Linked DNA regions of Homo sapiens: regions 1, 3 and 4 are each reported to be linked to region 2. Evidence: microRNA targets listed by miRTarBase, many of them from high-throughput screens and not tested one by one. Region 2 holds a microRNA gene; each other region holds the end of a gene's coding sequence.
What was found. The annotated mature microRNA hsa-miR-552-3p reads AACAGGUGACUGGUUAGACAA and lies in region 2 at 2,077-2,097, opposite strand. An mRNA with a match to its seed (bases 2 to 7 or 8) in the 3' UTR can be bound and repressed. Matches are read on the target gene's strand: a 7mer-m8 pairs with bases 2 to 8, a 7mer-A1 pairs with bases 2 to 7 and ends in A, and an 8mer does both.

Region 1: miRTarBase lists ZNF44 as a target of hsa-miR-552-3p. Seed matches in the 3' UTR shown: 8mer at 513-520 and 8mer at 654-661.
Region 3: miRTarBase lists HSPA4L as a target of hsa-miR-552-3p. Seed matches in the 3' UTR shown: 8mer at 1,583-1,590 and 8mer at 1,450-1,457.
Region 4: the mRNA of ABRAXAS1 is a reported target of hsa-miR-552-3p. Seed matches in the 3' UTR shown: 7mer-m8 at 4,315-4,321, 8mer at 4,134-4,141, 7mer-A1 at 2,936-2,942, 8mer at 2,396-2,403 and 7mer-A1 at 1,761-1,767.

The regions. Positions count from the first base shown.
Region 1 is chr19:12,267,641-12,272,795 of GRCh38, reverse strand. ZNF44 (zinc finger protein 44) reads left to right here. Exons shown (of 4, transcript NM_016264.4): 4 at 1-988. The coding sequence ends at 389. Among named protein-coding and RNA genes, the nearest start is that of ZNF44, 25 kb to the left of the region's middle.
Region 2 is chr1:34,667,538-34,672,692 of GRCh38, forward strand. It overlaps MIR552 (microRNA 552), which reads right to left and starts at 2,157; the gene lies at 2,062-2,157. All of the region lies in intron 1 of LOC105378641 (a long non-coding RNA gene), which reads right to left.
Region 3 is chr4:127,832,260-127,837,410 of GRCh38, reverse strand. It overlaps HSPA4L (heat shock protein family A (Hsp70) member 4 like), which reads right to left. Exons shown (of 19, transcript NM_014278.4): 19 at 1-4,728. The coding sequence ends at 4,537. Among named protein-coding and RNA genes, the nearest start is that of PLK4, 46 kb to the left of the region's middle.
Region 4 is chr4:83,458,033-83,463,160 of GRCh38, forward strand. ABRAXAS1 (abraxas 1, BRCA1 A complex subunit) reads right to left here. Exons shown (of 9, transcript NM_139076.3): 9 at 1,485-4,870. The coding sequence ends at 4,437. MRPS18C (mitochondrial ribosomal protein S18C) reads left to right here. Exons shown (of 6, transcript NM_016067.4): 3 at 314-397; 4 at 1,708-1,765; 5 at 2,941-3,000; 6 at 3,089-4,266. The coding sequence ends at 3,165. Among named protein-coding and RNA genes, the nearest start is that of MRPS18C, 4.5 kb to the left of the region's middle.

The DNA.
Region 1 (5,155 bases), not on the chromosome of region 2:
CTTTTAAATACTTTTGTCGCCATGAAAGGACTCACAGTGAAGAAAAATCTTATGAGTGTCAAATTTGTGGCAAAGCCTTCAGTCGTTTCAGTTACTTAAAAACTCATGAAAGGACTCACACGGCAGAGAAGCCATATGAATGTAAGCAATGCAGGAAAGCATTCTTTTGGCCCTCTTTCCTTCTAAGACATGAAAGGACTCACACTGGAGAAAGACCCTATGAATGTAAACACTGTGGTAAAGCCTTCAGTCGTTCCAGTTTCTGTCGAGAACATGAAAGAACTCACACTGGAGAGAAGCCCTATGAATGTAAGGAATGTGGGAAAGCCTTCAGTTCTCTCAGTTCCTTTAATAGACATAAAAGGACACACTGGAAGGATATTCTATAAGTGTATGGAATGTGGGAAAGCATTCATTGGTTTTATCACATTCAGATACTTGAAAGAAATAAATCCTGTGAATGTAAACGTGGTAAAGCCTTAAGAAGTTTCCAGGCTGGGCGCAGCGGCTCACACCTGTAATCCCAGCACTTTGAGAGGCCGAGGAGGGCAGATCACGAGGCCAGGAGATCGAGACCAGCCTGGCTAACATGGGAAACCCTGTCTCTACTAAAAATACGGAAAAAAAAAAAAATAGCCAGGCATAGTTGCTCACACCTGTAGTCCTAGCTACTCAGGAGGCTGAGGCAGGAGAATCCCTTGAACCCGGGAGGTGGAGGTTGCAGTGAGCCGAGATTGCACTACTGCACTCCAGCTTGGGTGCTAGAGCGAGACTCCATCTCAAAAAAAAAAAAAAAAGTTTCCATTTCTTTCAAATAGAGTTGCTGCCTGCTATATGCAAGAAGATTGGTTCCAGTACACCCTGAGTATACCTAAATCCACAGATGCCAGCTCTTTTATAAAATGGAATATTCGCATGTACCTACCCACATTCTCCTGTATACTCTATAAATGTCTAGATTAATTAAAATATCTCATGCATTGTAAAAGCTGTGTACATAGTTGTATTGTTTAGGGAATCATAAGAAAAAAAATCTATATGTGTTCAGTACAGACCCAACCATTGCAGGCCTATCTACATCGTATATATCACCTATAATGTTACAGTTTCTTGTTTCAATACTCAGATTACTTTTGTCTAATGACCTGAAAGAATGTGTTAACACCAACCACAATTCTGGTTCTTCTCTCTTGATAACCCAAGTATTACGATGGTTATGACAATGATGATTGCTGTATGGTGCCTAATGTGATGTGTAGAGGTGACTAGATGTGTGGCATCATAGATAAACAGTGAGACCTCAGGCTAACTTGAATCTTGACAGGACATCAAGACCTTCATCTATGTTGGAAGACCCAGGTTCTGATTGAAGATGTTGACTCTTTGCAGGAGGCTAATACTAATGTCAGCATCTGTTCAGCTTGAGGGCTGAAGATGTTTGTGTTGAAGGGTATGTCTTCATATTTGCAGATATTTAGTTAGAAGCATTGTTTTAGGAAGCTAGTTCTTTTTCTTTGAATCCCTAAAAAAACCTTAGTGTTCATTAGCATATTTTCCCTTATATGACACAGAAGCTTTTTTCAATCAAAGGATGTTAGCTGAGGTTGATTATCTTTAACACTTGCAACTTGCAGAGGCTATAGATGCCCCAAGATCTGCTGCAAATTTTTCGCGTGTCCAAATCAATGGCACTGCTCCTCTTCTTAATCTTCTGCATCATCAGCAGCATCATCATCATCATCATCATCATCATCATCACTTGTAGAGGATTTCAGTATATCTTCAGTTTCCTTTCCACCAACTTTCTTTGCAACATTTAAGATATTCCTGACTGCTGTATCAGTCTTGGGGAAACCCCTGAAATCACTTACTCCCTCACTCCAATGGCTTCCAATATGCTTTGGGTGTCCTGGGCTTTAGGGCATCTACAGCCTCTGCAGTAAGCACAGTTGCATCTGCAATTGTGAAGCTCTTCCATAAGTACACTGTGGTACAGTCAGGGTTAGAATCAAGGCAACATAAATTGTATAAATATTGAGGTGGGGCTGGGCACACTTGTTCACACCTGTAATCCTAGCACTTTAGGAGGCTGAGGCAGATGGATCAACTTGAGGTCAAAAGTTTGATACCAGCCTGGTCAACATGGTGAAACCCCATCTCTACTAAAAATACAAAAATTAGCTGGGCCTGGTGTCATGCGCATGTAGTCCCAGCTACTTGGAAGGCTGAGGCAGGAGAATCACTTGAACCCAGGAGGCAGAGGTTGCAGTGAGCCAAGATCCTACCACTGCACTCCAGTCTGGGTGACAGAGTGAGACTCGGTCTCAAGAAGAAAAAAAAAAAGTTGAAATGGGTGTAAATTGCCTTAATCTGCTTGATGATCCTTGACCAAGTGGCTGTGGCAGCGATAACAGTGTTAGAAGGCAAGAACATCACTTACACTTTTTCATCAGCATAACAGAAAAATTAAATTTTTGTTTTGTATTGAACATGAGCTTTGCTGGATATACGATTCTTGGTTAAGCTATGTTTCATAGCAGAGCATGATGAGAGTGTGTGTGAGGCTTCCCACTGAAAGGAGGAATGGAACCTAAGAAAGAGCAAATGTATCTATTTTACCCTAGTTATTTATCATTACAGTAGTCAACTAATGTCACACAACAATGATCAATATGAAGAATGGGATGGAAGAAGCAAATAATGTGGTTGGAGATTATAGCATTGTCTTCTTAGGAGACTGAAGACAAAACAACTGGAAATCTATTAAAACTGTGAAGGAGTCAATTTGCTGCTTATGGAGTGAGCATATCCTGTATTCATGATAGCATATACTATTGACTTAAAATAATATTTCTTGCAAATATATATAAATTTCTGAGGATGGTACTAATGCCATATGCAACATCTATTTGTGGACAAGTATGAGTGTTTTCTGATGAGATGACCTAAGTATCACCTCCATGGATATATATATATACAACTTTGGTGGATTGAAGTCTCCTCATCCCAGTGCTCATTGGGGAGAAATCCCATAATGTAAGTAATTTGGGAAAATCCAATCCAAATTAACTCATGTATAGTGCTCCAGAAAATTTGCATCATCAAAGAAATGTTATAACATTTATAACTATTGGCCAGGTGTGGTGACACAACATCTGTAATTCCAGCACTTTGGGAGGCTGAGGTGGGAGGATCGCTTGAGGCCAGGAGTTCAAGACCAGCCTGGGGAACATAGTGAGACTCCATCTCTTATTTTATTTTATTTTATTTTTTGAGATGGAGTTTCACTCTTGTTGCCCAGGCTGGAGTGCAATGGTGCTATCTCGGCTCACTGCAACCTCTGCCTCCTGGGTTCAAGTGATTCTCCTGCCTCAGCCTCCCGAGTAGCTGGGATTACAGGCACCCGCCGCCATGCCTGGCTAATTTTGTATTTTTAGTAGAGACAGGGTTTCACCGTGTTAGCCAGGATGGTCTCAATCTCCTGACCTTGTGATCCATCTGCCTTGGCCTCCCAAAGTGCTGGGATTACAGGCGTGAGCCACTGTGCCCGGCCTTCTTTTTTAGAATGTGTAAACTAGACACAATTTTTCTCATGTCATGCACATAAAAGCAGTATTTTCCAGCAGTGGTCGCTCACTCTCCTTGCTGGGCAGACAGTCAGTGTATCCAGGGTGCAGTGATTTTGGAGTATCCAGGTGTGGATGAACTATTTACTTGTGGTTGGAGTGCTTCCCAGATTCTCATAGCCAGGGGCCCAGGCATGGTGGCTCAAGCCTGTAATCCCAACACTTTGGGAGGCTAAGGCAGGAGGATCACTTGAGTCTAGGAATTTGAGACTAGTCTCAGCAACATAGGGAGACCATGTGTCTACAGATAATTTTAAAAATTAGTTGGGGTAGTGGTGCACGCCTGTAGTCTCAGCTATTCGGGAAGCTGAGGTGGAAGGATTGCTTGAGCTTGGCAGGGTGAGATTGGAGTGAGCCATGATTGTGCCATTGCACGCCAGCCTAGGCAACAGAGCAAGACCCTGTCTCAGAAAAAAAAAAAAAAAAAAATTAGCCAGGCATGCTGACATGTGCTTGTAGTCCCAGTTACTGGGTGGGAGGATAACTTGAACCCAGGAGTTTGAGGCTGTGGTGAGCTATGATCATGCCTCTGTACTCCAGCCTGGGTGACAGAGTGAGACCCTGTCTCAAAATAAATAACAGTGTAAGTTAAATAATAATAAAGAGATTTTCTCCTGGCTCTGAAACCATTTCTGGACCTGCAAGGCAATCATGTGGAATGAAATGGGGCCATCCATCAACAGGGCAGGTAGTAGATTAGCCAGATTTACTAGTATAATGTTAGACATAGACCAGTAGAACAGAATAGAGAGACCAGAAATAATCTTCATTTATGGTCTGTTGATTTTCTACAAATGCCCCAAGATAATGGGGAAAGCGTTTTCAACATGGTGCTGGGACAACTGGATATTAACCTGCAGAAAGATGAACTGAGACCTTTATCTCATATCATATGTGAAAATTAACACTAAAATGATGAAAAGCAAAAATACAAAGTTAGCATCAGATGTAGGAGAGTATCTTTGTGACTGGGGTGGGGAAGGAGCTTGTGTGTGTGTGTGTGTGTGTGTGTGTGTGTGTGTGTCTGTGTGTGTGTGTAAGAACACCAAAGGCCCATGTAATCCCAGCACTTTGGGAGGCCGAGGCAGGCGGATCACCTGAGGTTAGGAGTTTGAGACTAGCCTGGCCAACATGGTGAAACCCTGTCTCTGTTAAAAATACAAAAATTAGCCAGGTGTGGTCACGCTCGCCTGTAATCCCAGCTTCTTGGGAGGCTGAGACAGGAGAATCGCTTGAACCTGGGAGGCAGAGTTTGCAGTGAACCGAGATCACACCACTGTACTCCAGCCTGGTTGACAGAGCAAGACTCTGTCTCAAAAATTAAAAAAAAAAAAAAGACAATCTGTCAAGGTGAGACTTAGAGACTAAGTCTCATTTGGGTTGTCTCCTAGAAGAAGGGTTTATAAAGTTGACAGTTTAGGGCAGAACCTTAAACTGACTCCAGGTGAGAGTTTCTTGCTTTTGAAAATAAAGATCTTGAAGGGAAGATTGTTCCCACATGAGGTGGGAACAGGAGGACATGTTGAGCT
Region 2 (5,155 bases):
TCACATGGTCACACGTCAGTGCTGCCTGCAAAGAAATCCATTTTACAAACAAACTTAGGGTAATAGGACCCAGATCTGTAATGCCTTATCCTGATTAATGACGGACCCACACACTGTTATATCCATGGTCACCAAGAGAAAAGCTAACATTCTTGGAAGCAGCATTACTCTTAAAATTGCAATAATCTCCAGGGAAAATAACCCAATTTAAACTTATTCCCTCTTTAGCTAGAATGTGTTTAACTCTTTTAAACTTGTTCTTTGCTGTTACCTGTGTCCTTCAAAGACATGCCCCTTGTTATTCTACGTAACTCCCTTCACTCAGACCTTCAATAATTGCAAAAGCAATTTAACCCCCAGTTTACCATGATACTATTAAAGAGTAAAATAGTCAGTAGCCCAAAGAAATTCTTAGGAAGCCAACACTTTCAATTGGCATGCTTTTTTTAGACCCTAAATTCATATGCATAAATATGCATTCGTTCAGTCTGTCAACCCACGTCTAGGTAATGGTTGAATAAGTTAGAGGAGCTCTCTGACGTCAGGGAACTTACATTCTAGTCAGAAGAGGCAGATACATGAATCAACAAACAAGACCATTCAGGATGCATACGCATTGATCTGAAAGTCTCTTCACTTCACTTGCCTGAGCTGAGGTGGGACCACAATCTTTGAAGAACCAAAGAAGGAGAGTTCTCAGAAGAGGTTATAGCAAGTGCAAAGGTCCTGTGGCAGGAAAGAGCTTGCCAGGCTCAGGAGGTGGAAACATACATTGCCAAATACAAATACACACACAACATATACACCAACACACACCAAAGACTTTCTACAAGGTTTCATTAAATACTGAGTGGGTACAAAAGATATTTATAAAACATGTCTGCTGTACAAAGAATAACAATAAAGGGAACATTCGTGTATCCCACCATCCAGTTTAGAAATGAAAGCGTGACCATCAAGCATGACCTCTTTGATCTGATTGCCTCTCTTCGTAACCCAGAGAAATGCTAATCTGAATTCATTCTCCAATGTTTTTTTTCTTTATCACCTTATATCCTGAACAATATATTGTTTAATACGTTTTTGATCTCTAAGACTAGAATCTTGCAGTTATGTAGGTTTGTATGGCTTGGGGTTTTTGTAGCCAAGTCAAAGCTATGATAAATTTGTTTCTGAAATTTTTGAGTGAAAGAGTTAATAATTTTTAATTAGAATTTGTTATTGAGATAATTATAAATTCATATGCAATTCTGTGTACCATTTATCCAGTTTCCCCCAGTGGTAACTGATATGGTCTGGCTGTGTCCCCACCCAAATCTCATCTTGAGTTGTAGCTCCCATAATTCCCACGTGTTGTGGGAGGGACCCAGGGGGAGATTATTGAATCACGGGGGTGGTTTCCCCCATACTGTTCTCATGGTAGTGAATAAGTCTCACAAGGTCTGATGGTTTTATAAGGGGAAACCCCTTTCACTTGGTTCTCATTTCTCTCATATCTGCCACCATGTAAGACGTGCCTTTCACCTTCTGCCATGATTGTGAGGCCTCCTCAGCCATGTGAAACTGTAAACCCATTAAACCTCTTTTCCTTTATAAACTACCCAGTCTCAGGTATGTCTTTATCAGCAGCATGAGAAGAGACTAATACAATAACATTTTTAAAACACTAGTACAATATCATAACCAGGATATTGACATGATACAGCTCACCAGTCTTACCCAGATTTCTCCAATTTACTTGTATCATTTGTGGTCTGTGTGTGTGTGTGTGTGTCCATCACTAAAGTCAAGACATCAGCCAGTCCATCACCATGAGGATCCTTCATGTTGTGCCTTTATAACCACCTCCCTCCACCTCACCACATTCTTAACCCTCAACAACCACTAATCCCTTCTCTATCTGTAACATTTGTCATTTCAAAATGTTATATAAATGTAATCATACATATGTAGCCTTTGGCATTGACTTTTTTCACTCATAATAATTCCCCAAAGATTCATCCAAGTTGTTTGTAATCAATAGCTTGTTGCTTGTTTATTGCTGAGTAGTATTCCATCCTGTGTATATACCACAGTTTGTCTAACCAGTCACCTGTTGAAAGGCATCTTCAACCAACAGGCAAAAGGTTAAACAAACTGTGGTATATTTGAATGGTTAAACAAACTGTAGTATATTCGACTATTACAAATAAAGCTGCTGTGAACACTTGGCTATTGCAAATAAAGCTCCCCAGGTTTTTGTGTGGACATAAGTTTTTATTTCCCTGGGATAAACACCTGAGGGCGCTACTGCTGGGTCATAGGCATGCTGGGTTTTATAATTAGCTGCCCTCTGTTTTCTAGGCTAGATCTACAATTTTACATCCCATCAACAATATATGAACAAGCCTATTTCTCTACATCCTTGCCAATGTTGGGTGTTCTCATTTTTTTTTTATTTTAGCAATTCTGATAGATGCATAGTGATATGTTATCATGGTTTTAATTTGCATTACCCTTATGTTGAACATATTTCATGGATTTTTTTTGCCATTTGAATAACTTACACTATGGAATATCTATTCATGTGTTTTGCCCATGTTCTAGTAGATTACTTGTTTTCTTTTTACCATTGAGTTTTGAGAGCTCTTATATAATCAAGATTCTAGTCCTTTTCAGGTGTGTGATTTGAAAATATCTTCTCCTACTCAGCAACTTGTCTATAGCTTGCTTTTTTACCCAAGATTATTGTCCTCAGTTTTATCTATGCAGATGGATTTTTTTGGTTTTGTTGCTGTATCATTCTACTATTGTTTTGTATTTTGCTGTATCATTATACTATTGATGGACATTGCTTATTGTTCTGCTTTCACAAGCCATGTTACCATGGGCTTTCTTGATGTGTCCACTGCTGCACCTATATAAGTTCTCTAAGGTATAGACCTAGTAACATTTCTGGATCACAGGGTATGTGCATTATTAATGTTATTAGATAATGCTGAATTTATGCCAAAGAAATTTCATCACTTAGAACTGCCACCAGCAGTGTAAAAGTTCCTATTACTCCATGCCTTTGCTAGCACTTGATCTTATCAGACTTTTTTTCAATTTTAACAATGTAATGGGCATATAATGATATCTATTTCATTTGTATTTCCCAAGTTACAAATAATCATACAAATAAATACAAATAGTTCCTTTACTTCCCTGGTGAAACTGAATATTCAGTCTAGACATTCAGATTTCCTGTTTCATTAAGTGTCTATTTAAGTTACTTTGCCCATTTTCGTATTGAGTTGTGTATTAGTCTGTTTTCACACTGCTATAAAGATACTACCTGAGACTGAGTAATTTATAAAGAAAGGGGTTTAATGGACTCACAGGGAAAGCCTCAGGAAACTTATAATCATGGCAGAAGGCAAAAGGGAAACAAGGCACATCTTCAAAAGGCAGTAGGAGAGGGAGAGAGAAAGAAGGAGAAAGAGCCACTTATCAAACAACCAGATCTCATGAGAATTCACTCACTACCACGAGAACAGCACGGGGGAAACTGGCCCCCTTGATCCAATCACCTCCCACCAGGTTCCTCCCTCTGTTGGCAGTGGCCGCTGCCATCATGCAGGCTGCAGCAGGGAGGCACCACCCCAGGGCTGCACACTCCGTGAGGCAGGCAGGAGCTGGTGACAAGTGGGAGCCCCACCCCTTTTGAGTTGGCAAGGCGGGAGTTCCCTAGGTGCAGCTGTGGCCACCCTCCCAAGCGCAGGACCCGAGAGTCTCTGCAGTCTTCACTCTTGGGGGCCTCAGAAGTCCCCCCCAACCCCCTGGCCCCACAGGCTCTAGAGTGTCTGCTCCTGCTGCCTGGCCTCTCCACTCCTGGCACCCTACTCCAATCTTGGAGCCAGGTTGGGGCCTATCCTGGGCACTGGCACAGCCTGGCCAGGTGTGCACATGCTTGGGGCAGTGCTGACATGCCAGTACCCTGCTACCTCGGCCTCCTCCAGAATTTGGGCAAAATGAGCATGAGAGGAGAAACTGAGGGGGAGGGCTGAGGGTGGCTTGGCACTGGCCTGCAGGTGCCTTTTGGTGCAAGCAGCCTGGGCACCATAGGCACCATGGATGGCAGCAGGAGGCAGACAGGCTCCTGGATTGAAGGGAGTGGATCCCTAGTAAGGCCCTACCTTTAGGCCAGGGATGGCCTGAAGGCTGGGGGCTGAGCAGTAAGTCCCGCAGATCAAAGTGGGGACTTGCAGTGCCTTTCAGGCCTGCCCATGGCCACCCATGGACCAACTGACACACACTTCCTCCCCTCTGACATCCGTAAAAGCCCCAGGCTCAGCTAAAGCAGGGTAGAGGATGGAGAGATGATGGGATGACCAACTTCAGAGAGGAGCTATCCTCTCTGCTGAGAGCTGGGAAGAAGAGAGGAAGACTTGCCTGTAGAGAGGAGCAACTTTCTCCAGAGCCTCCTCTCTGTTGAAAGCAGCAGACATCAGGATGACTGGCTGCAGAGAGGAGCTACCCTCTCCAGGGCCTCCTCTCTGTTGAAAGCAGCAGACATTGGGATGACCACCTGCAGAGAGGAACTACCATCTCCAGGGCCTCCTCTCTGTTGAGAGCTGAACCCCTGACAGGACAAGGATGACCAGCTGCAGAGAGGAGTTACCCTCTCTAGAGCCTCCTCTCTCTTGAGAGCTGAACCCTTAATGGGACAACCTGCCAGCAGAGAGGAGCCACAGACCCCAGGGCCTCCTCTCTGCTGAAAGCTGAACACTCAACGAGATGACCTGCCTGCAGAGAGGAGCTATCCACCACAGGTCTCTTCTGAGCATTCTAACACTCAATAAACCTCCTCTTCATCGTGTTTACCCTACACTTGTCTGTGTACCTCATTCTTCCTGGACACAGGACAAGACCTCAGCAAAGGTGCCACCAGCCACAGAGGTTTCTGGCCAATTGATACCCCAAAGATCCCTTAACACCTCAACACATAGGGATTACAATTCAGCTTACATTCAATATGAGATTTGGGTGGGGACACAGCCAAACCATATATCAGGTTGTCATTTTCTCATTGGCTTGCAGGAGGTTTTTTGTTTTTTGTTTTTAACATATTCTCAATGCTAATCTTTCCCACTTATTTGTGTTACAAATCTTTTCTTATAGCGTGTGCTTTTTC
Region 3 (5,151 bases), not on the chromosome of region 2:
CAGTGTTACCAGATTTTAAATGTATATTGATATGTACAATTAGCTGTGCCTCTCATTAACAGTTTATACAATAAAATATCACAAAACAAAATTCTGCTTACAGTTCAAAACTTTAGAAGTTTAACCACAAAATAACATTAACTTTAAAAGCAAAAATTTTTGGCCGGGTATGGTGGCTCACGCCTGTAATCCCAGCACTTTGGGAGTCTGAGGTGGGTGGATTACCTGAGGTCAGGAGTTCAAGAGTTCAAGACCAGGCTGGCCAACATGGCAAAACTCCATCTCTATAAAAATACAAAAATTAGCTGGGTGTGGTGTCATGCACCTGTAGTCCCAGCTACTCAGGAGAGGTTGAGGCAGAAAAATCGCTTGAACTCAGGTGGTGGAGGCTGCAGTGAGCCTAGATCACCCCATTGCAATCCAGCCTGGGTAACAAAGCCATACTCTGTCTCAAAACAAAAAAAAAAATTTTGTAAACTTTTAAAAACTGAGAAAGTTATATTTTACCAATAACTTAAGAATCATTTCTAAATCTATAATTTGTAAAATTAATGCAATGACTTTAATTGTGGACTACCAAATACCAACTATTTACTATAAAACAGAAAATCCTAATGGGAGAGGCTTATTATTTGTCAAATTTATGAAAGTGGAGGAATGGTTGTATGTATTTAGGGTGAAAACAAAATCAGTTAATTTGATTACTATATTCAAATGTCTACTACCTTTAATAAATATAGATTTTTCAAAACAGTTAAAGATGGGCTAATTTGGATTAAGTGCTTTAACACTGACATTATGTTAAATTATTGAGCCCCAAAATTCTCTTTAAAGACTTCTATCATGGAATTAATCACAAATATACTAAAAATTGACGCCTCCCTCCCAAAAAAAGTCTAAGAAACCTTTACTTCTTTTAGCTCTTAATATACTAAAAATTGACACCCCCCCCCAAAAAAGCATAAGAAACCTTTAATTCTTTCCTTTAGCTCTTCTTAGTAAATGTCTTGTTTTCCTTTTATGTTTTTGTTTTGTTTTGTTTTTGAGATGGAGTCTTGCTCTGTTGCCCAGGCTGGAGTGCAGTGGCGCGATCTCGGCTCACTGCAACCTCCGCCTCCTGGGTTCACACCATTCTCCTGCCTCAGCCTCCTGAGTAGCTGGGACTACCGGCGCCCGCCACCATGCCCAGCTAATTTTTTGTATTTTTAGTAGAGACGGGGTTTCACCGTGTTAGCCAGGATGGTCTTGATCTCCTGACCTCGTGATCTGCCCGCCTTGGCCTCCCAAAGTGCTGGGATTACAGGCGTGGGCCACTGCCTTTTATGTGTTTGAGACAGGGCCTCACTCTGTTGCCCAGGCTGGAGTGCAGTGGTATGATTATGGCTCATTGCAACCTTGACCTCTCAGGCTTAAGTGATCCTCCACCTCAGCCTCCTGAGTAGCTAGGACTACAGGTGTGCACCACCATGCCTTGCTAAGTTTTTATTTTTTTAGAGACAGGGTCTCACTATGTTTCTCAGGCTGGTCTTGAACTCCTGGGTTCAAGTGATCCTCCCTTCTTAGCCTCTCAAAGTGCTAGGATTACAGGTGTGAGTCACTGTGCCCAGCCTTGTTATCCTTTTCAAAATCAAGTTTATCTGTTATTTCAATAGCCAAATTCTTTGCTGTGCTCTTTCTAGTTTTTTGGAAGAATTTTTGTTTTTTTTTTGAGACGGAGTCTTGTTCTGTTGCCCAGGCTGGAGTGCAGGAGCACGATCTCAGCTAACGGCAGCCTCTGCCTCCTGGGTTCCAGCGATTCTCCTGCCTGAGCCTCCCGGGTAGCTGAGATTACAGGGACATGCCACCACGCCCGGCTACTTTTTTGTATTTTTAGTAGAGACAGGGTTTCACCATGTTGGCCAGGCTGGTCTTGAACTCCTGACCTCAGGTGATCTGCCTGCCTTGGCCTCCCAAAGTGCTAGGATTACAGGCGTGAGCCACAGCGCCTGGCCAAAACTTAATAATTTTACATTACTGCTAAGGAATTATCACAAACTTCCATTATATTATTTAACAATTGTTTTTTATAATCACAGTACAACTATCAAGAGTTGGTTTCTAAAACCACAATTTACACTTTTCCACAGAGCCAAAGTATACTAATTTATATTAATCATTCCAAATATTCCCTACAAACTTCATTCTTATTTGCTTACCATAGGAAAACACTGTTTTACTATGCATCTTTTAAAATAATTTCTGAAATAATAGCTTTTTATTTTGAAAATCTTTGTCTAGCATTGCATATTTTAATGCAGATTAAAATTGGACTGAATTAGACTGTCTACCCAAAGCTGCATTAAAGAGAGCACTCTCTTTCATTAATGAATTAAATAAATAAATACATTATAAGGCTAAATCGTTTTTGAAATCTTTTAAGTTGAATAATTGGGTAGAAAAAGTATATATATTTGGATGTATATAAGTTATTAAATGAAGTGTTATATAATTACAAAAATTAGTGGTACTATCTGACTAAAACACAAAACTAAAAGTGACTTCAGAGCAGGAATGGAAAATGTCAGGATATACTAGAAAATTTAGATGTATTAATAGAAAAGTTGTTCCCATATTTACTCCCAGGAAGTTTCTGAGGCATAGCTCCTAACCAAGTGAGTGGATGTTTTAACCCAAATAGAAGCTCTAAAGTCCCTACTTGTATTGTTACATATTTGCTTTCATTATCTTCATGCTTTTCTTGAAATGAATCTGTACATTCAACATACAAATAAAAAGCATCTATGTTTGTAAAAAATGTATTTCATCACCTATTGGATATACCTATTTCATTTTAAGAGAATTAAGAGAAAGTTTAAAGACTAGGAGAGTTTAAAAATATATTAAGTTTATATGATTTTTTAATGCAAAAAAGAGATTCTTCCCCTCAAAAGACGGAATAAAAATCCCTGCAAAATGCACTACTCCATACTCTCCATTAAGTGCTGACTACATTGTAGAAACAAAATCTCTCGTAGAGAACTAGTTGTGAGAAATAATGACTATCCCTAAAGATATTGTACTCTCAATTTTTACAACTTAAGTCAATATTTAATTGTTCCTAATATAAAGATTTAGCTTTGGGAGAAAATGAGCCTTTTGAAATTTTAACCTAGGTCAATCTAGTTGATTGGCATTAAGGACATAAGGGCTCATATACTTGTCTATGCTTCTGTCTCTTGCAGGTTGAAACACCATTTCAGTCTGTTCCCATACTTAAGCAGTTTCAGGTCTCTGGACAGAAATTAACAATGTGAACAAGTTGGGTGATGAAGCACAGATAAAGTCCTTAAAATACATCTTAAGTTTACAGTCCCTTTTCGCATTTAATTTGTATAAGAAGCACCAAAACTGGAGCCAAGGTTTCAAAAGGTAATGTTAACAGCAGGAACTATAATTTAATCACACAACACTATGTAACATTCTATATTTTTGCCTGTTGATATGTAACATAGTTAAGTTTATTACAAACATTATTTCCTAAGACTTATGGTATAAGTGCTCCTTTTCAAGTATTACCACTTAATAGTGTTTAATCTACAAGGTAACATTAGGTAAATCAATGATAAATGTATATAATGCAATACACTGTGCCACTTCTTCCTACCCTGTGTTAAGGTATTATTAACAAAATCAATTAAGAAAAAAACAAGACAACTATTATAACTGAAACAAGGCTATGAACATCACAGATGCATGTCTGAGTAGATAAACAGCATTTCCCCTTAACATGAAAGTCATTTTGTCAGAGACTCCTGTATCTTTAGGCTAGCATTGTTTTAGCAGCAGCTAGTCTTCAGGACAAGATCAAAAATTTCAAGCGAAAAGACAACGAGTTACTCTGAGAAAACATCAATCCACATTACTAATAAAAGAAGCAAACTGCTGGTTTCACCTTAACATAAAATTGGGTGTGTTCCCTTTCACATGTGATTTAATTCATTTATGTGATGACAGCAAAGCTTTGGATTTCTGTGGTACATCAATGAGATGGACTAATTTGTTGAGAAAGCTCTTATTTGTTTTAATATTTAAATTGTAGCAATACAATAACTAGAAAAAGGTCAGTGCCTCTGTAGCTTTAAACCCCATCAATTTTCATTTGTTTTTCAAAATAAAGATGCAATTAAATCTATGCTTCTGCAACAATAATGCAATAAAGTATCCTTTCCTGAATAAAGGAATTGAGGTTTATCCCAGTAGAAGCTTTAAATAAGGTAGACTGTTGCCAACTATGTATCCATCCTGTATGTTTGATATATAAAATTATCCGGAAAGCTTAGATTGTCTTGTAAATCTAATTCGGCTAACACTGCATATAAGCAGCAATGGAAATGAACAGAAGTGCACTCAATATAAAACACTTTTCAAAACTACTCCAAAAAACAAATGACAAAAGTGGTTAAGAACAACTGAGCGTCTGTTGTGTGTACCAGATGTAAAAGATGGACCCCGTGGTTACTTGCACGGTTTGAATTAATGTGAAGGTAAAATTAAGACTTAGTCCACTTCCATCTCTCCAGAGGATTTAGTATGCTGTGAGCTGTCTTTTGTTGAATCTGATTTAGTTTCAGTTCCACTCTGTCCATCCATTGGGCCATTGTGTTCACTATTAGCTTTTGGTTTGTCTTCAGGAACTTCTGCTTTTGGTTTGGGCTTGTAAATGATGGGGTTACAGAAATTATCCAGTTCCTAAAGACATGAAGAAATTGATTATATTAAAACGATTACAGAACAAGTTACCATTAACTTTCTAAATTCCACATTAACTTTCTAAATTTTCACATAATTCCCCCTTTCTGAATTTGCTCAGCTAGATAGCCAACTGTTTTCTTCAAATGCCTCATGAGAGATTTACCTTGTTTGTTAGTATATGTCTGTGGCAGTCAAAAATTATTGAATCTTAAACAATTATTTTTTGTACTTAACCTTTCTAAAACTTGTTTCTTTATAATCAAATACAGTTTACTTTGGCAGGAATAATTTTTAATTCTTCCTTTAAATTACGTGTAATGCTTTGCTATGAGAATTACATCAAATAACACCTATTTCATAAACTGAAAATTTTCAACATTTATATGAAAACAATTCTAATAAATGGAATCATACAAATAC
Region 4 (5,128 bases), not on the chromosome of region 2:
GTTGTAAGTTTCCTTAAATCTAAAAATTTTTTCATTATCTACAATCTGAGCAAAGCATTGGAACACTTTCTTATCAGACATCATTTTTGTTCTGCCATAAAATTTTATTCTATGAAGATTGTACTTTATTCCAGAATCTTCCCATGCGTTAATCCGTAGGCTAAACTAAAACAAAATAAAGTGCTTATACAAAATATGTACACAGTAAGAAAGGTATAACTAATCCTTTGAATGGATTTGAATGTAGAATAGTAACCTTTTAAAATTCAGAATTAACACATCCTATTATCAGACTTTTCGTTTTTTTCCCTAGCCCATTTCAATGGAAAATCCTTATAAAGAACCTCTTAAGAAATGTATCTTGTGTGGAAAGCATGTAGATTATAAGAATGTACAGGTGAGATCTGGTTTTACTTCACTATATTTTAGGGTTTTGCTTCTGATAGATCTGCTTAAAGAGAATCAAGTCAGTTTATAGCAGGCTTTTGTAGAGGTAACTGTTTTAGCAACTTCATAATTTCAAATTTGGTTATAATTCTATGTATAAGCTTATCTCTGCTTTATTCAAGTAAAAGCACCTTGGCTTTCCCCCACTTACTGTTATTTCCACTCTGTTTTTTTCACTACCCCAAACATCTTAATAGCTCCCTGTGGCAGTAATTCTCAATTGGTGAGGGTCAGAACTTTGGAAAAAGCTCATCTGGTGAAGCTGATCTCTTTATCTCACCACCCATATCACTGATTCACATATTACTTATCTCTTGTCTAACTCTCAGCAAGTTAGAAGTTGCAAATTTGGGGCAAGTGAATAGCGCTAGAATTCTGTATGTTGGCTGGGTGTGGTGGCTCACGCCTGTAATCCCAGCACTTTGGGAGGCCAAGGCGGGCGGATCACCTGAGGTCAGGAGTTTGAGACCAGCCTGGCCAATGTGGTGAAACCCCGTCTCTATTAAAAATACAAAAATTAGCTGAGTGTGGTGGTGCATGCCTGTAATCCCAGCTACTTGGGAGGCTGAGGCAGGAGATTTGCTTGAACCCAGGAGGCGGAAGTTGCAGTGAGCTGAGATCGTGCCATTGCACTCCAGCCTGGGTGACAAGAGTAAAACTCTGTCAAAAAAAAAAAAAAAAAAAAAAAAGAATTCCATATATTGACAATAGTATAAAGTGATAGCTGCCTTTGAGGAAGAACCAAGAATTACAAAAACACACATACTAGGAAGATTATGCAAAGTGCCAAGAATAATGACTAGCACCTAGAAAGGTTCTAAAGAAGTATTTAAATAAAACATAAATTATAGCAAATGCCTGGTGTACTTGTACCTCTTGAAAATCTCATTACCCCCTGATAATTTATCTTAATGATTATCAGAGGGTAATGTGATAGCTTGTCAGGATAGATGAAATTTTTTAGTAGCTTGTTTCAAGCAATATTTTAGAAAGGTATCTGTGGAAGTCAAGAAAACAGATTTACCATTGAATGAATATGCTGATTAATCTGCTGTTTAATTATATATAGACTTGACACACTGGATAGAAAATATTTAAAAGGTAACAGGAGGATAACAATATTTTTTTCTTATATTTTATGAAATGTGTCTGAAATTTAGTAAAGCTTTATATAACCTGAAGGTTGTTTTTTGAAATTTACACATTCAGAAATAAATAACAGATACTTTTTTTTCCCCTCCACATAAAACTCCAAAACAGCTTTTGTCCCAGTTTGTTTCTCCATTTACTGGATGCATTTATGGAAGGCACATTACAGGTATGTTCTTTTTTATTATGGGAATATAAATGTAGATACGAATTATATCAATCTATTTCTATCATTTAAGAAAACTCAAATTTTCAAATTGTGCTATAAATTACTACTAGATCAGATACTACAGGGACTAGAGCTAGTTACTATGAAAAAGTCTCTTAGGCCAAGAGGATTATTATTTTGCTGTCTTATGCAGAGTTAACTATATAGAAAAACTGGGCTTTAAAAAACTGTTGTTGATGTTTTGGAATATACTATAATCATTCCTAGATTGATACTTAAACTTGGTGTCAGCAAACTATGGCCCATAGGCCAAATTCGACCTGCTCCCTTTTTATCTTGATTAGGTTCATCATATACAAATGCCACTTTTTTTTTTTTTTGAGATGGAATCTCACTGTCACCCAGGCTGGAGTGCTGTGGCACAATCTCGGCTCACTGCAACCTCTGCCTCCTGGGTTCAAGTGATTCTCATGCTTCAGCCTCCCGAATAGCTGGGATTACAGGCATGCACCACCACGCCTGGCTAATTTTTGTATTTTTAGAGATTGGGTTTCTCCATGTTGGCCAGGCTGGTCTTGAATTCCTGACCTCAGGTGATCCACCTGCCTAGGCCTCCCAAAGTGCTGGGATTACAGGTGTGAGCCACTGCACCCAACCCCACTTGTTTTTGTAGTTTTGTTTACGTAGTGCCATATGGTTGTTTTCGAGCTACAACAGCAGAGTTGAGTGGCAGTGATGGAGACTGTATGGCCCACAAAACCTAGATTATTATTGTGGCCCTTGACAAAAATGATTTACCAATCCTTGACTTAAAAACTTGTTGAGGCTGGGCATGTTGGCTCACACCTGTAATCCCAGCACTTTGGGAGGCTGAGGTGGGCAGATCACCTGAGGCCAGGAGTTCAGGACCAGCCTGGCCAATATGGTGAAACCCCGTTTCTACTACAAATACAAAAAAATTATCCGGGTGTGGCGGTGCATGCCTGTAATTCCAGTTACTAAGGAGGCTGAGGCAAGATAATCGATTGAGCCTGGGTGGCGGAGGTTGCAGTGAGGCGAGAGAGCACCACTGTACTCCAGCCTGGGTGACACAGGGAGACTCCATCTCAAAAAAAAAAATTGCAAACTTTAAATATTGACATTTTTTATGAATAAGAAAGCTTTTTATTTTACAGGTCTTTGTGGGAAGAAACAGAAAGAAATCACAAAAGCAATTAAGAGAGCTCAAATAATGGGTAAGAAAGAATACCTCAACAACTGAATTGAGCTAGCTGAAATTTTGCTCATTATGTTTTGTCAAGAACTTTAATTATCTCTTTACAGGGTTTATGCCAGTTACATACAAGGATCCTGCATATCTCAAGGACCCTAAAGTTTGTAACATCAGATATCGGGAATAAATTCTATCACGTTACCACTAATAAACTTATTTTACAGTAAGTGGTTGTATGATGCCAATACTGACTCAAACCAACCTTTGGATAGAAAAGTGTTTGAGGAGTGAGGTAAAGAATGACACTTCCCCTTCATACCAATGTCCATTAAGCAGATTGCTTATTTAAAATGTTAACACTCATCACATTTTATCTATGTTGAATAAAAGTGGTTCTGTGTGATTGTCATTTATATCTGATCCCCAAATAGCTCATACAATAATCCATTCAATAGAATGGAATTAAAACTGTTCAGAATGATTTTCCAACTAGCAAATATAAGTATGCCTGGTTAAGATATCTTCCCTTTGTAGAAATGTTACATTGGGATGGATAGTGGTGCTGTCACAGAAGGACAAAATATTCCTAGACGAGTCTACCCTCAAACCAGTAGTGTCTTTTACATGAAGAGATGATTTACACCTAATAGACATTGAATATGATAGACATACATGTATATATGTATCAGTTCTGAGTTCCACTGGCCTATCCCAAATACACTGGATTACCAGGCTTGTACTGTATTCAAAATGATAGATTTGCTAAATTTCATGCAAAGGACTCTAAACTAGGGGAGAGATTACTGTTTGTGTTGTGTTATAGTTGTGTAATAATTAAGGCTGCCAGATTTAGCAAGTACAAATGTAGGACAAATTTAAATTTTAGATGATGTTTTGCAAATTTATTGCATGATATCCAGCATTTTATCTGGCAACTCTAGCCATAATGTACTTCTAAAAAAGTATCACTTAAGGAGAATTTTAATGACTCAGATAAATTTTCATATAAATTTCTTTCCATATTTTGAAAATAAGGCTATTCTTGCTTTTCCATTTTATTTTTTAATAGACATGGTCTCAATACGTTGCCCAGGCTGGTCTCTAACTCCTAACTTCAATCAATCCTCCTGACTTGTCTTCCCTAAGTGCTGGGATTACAGGTGTGAGCCACTGTGCCTGGTCTCACTTTTCCAATTCTAAAGAATGTGTCTGTGTAAGCCTTCCCCTCAACAACTTAGTGAAAGGTGAAAAAAAGGTTTGGAAATAAAAGCATCTGATGTTTGAAAAAGTACTTTGTGAAGTAAATGCACTAAGAGTTATCTGTGTATTACTGCAAACAGGTGAACATAGTAAAAACAAATGAACTTACTGCAAGTAGCTCAACATAGTAAAAACAATAGAAATGTTTGGCTTTACCCATCAGCCAAATAAAAAAATCTCCTTGTAAGGTTAAAAGGATCAAAATGTAGGAGACCGTGAATATTCACCAAAACCCTTCATCTTTTCAATTTCTTCATCTGTTTCTGGGCTGCTCATTTTGGATGCTTTATCTTGGTTACTACTACCAGTATCTGCTTTAGATCGTTTGTCTTGTGTATCTAACAACCGAGATCTCTTGAATTGCCATCTGTCATCTAAGTCTAAGGCTTTATGCTTAATGATTTGTGGTGTACTAGCTGGACTAGCTTCAGGAATGTCAGTGTGTTCTACCATTAAGGTCAGATTGTCTACTACATCGAGATGGTGGTTGTAGTTACAGCTACTTTTAGAAACATGTCTATTTTTTAAAGACATAACACATGAATGAAGAAATTCAGAATTTGGAAAAAAGGTCCGTAATGCCTGACAAAGAAAAATGTTCTCCTGAGGGTCTTTTTGGATGTTCTTCTCTCCTAAACAAAATAGAATAACAGTTCAACATATAACATTTCTTCTACAAAGCTTTTATAATTAACTATTTGTAAGTAAAATTAAGTCAAAAAGATTTTAACAGTTGTATTATCTAAAGTGAGGATAACATACATAATTCTGAATTCTAATTTATATGCCACAGTATTCTAAGACAAAATTAAAGTTGTGTTCTTTCATGTCAGCAATATAGCTACCATAGTATTATGTTCTTTAAAAGCACAGAAAGGGCCGAGCGCAGT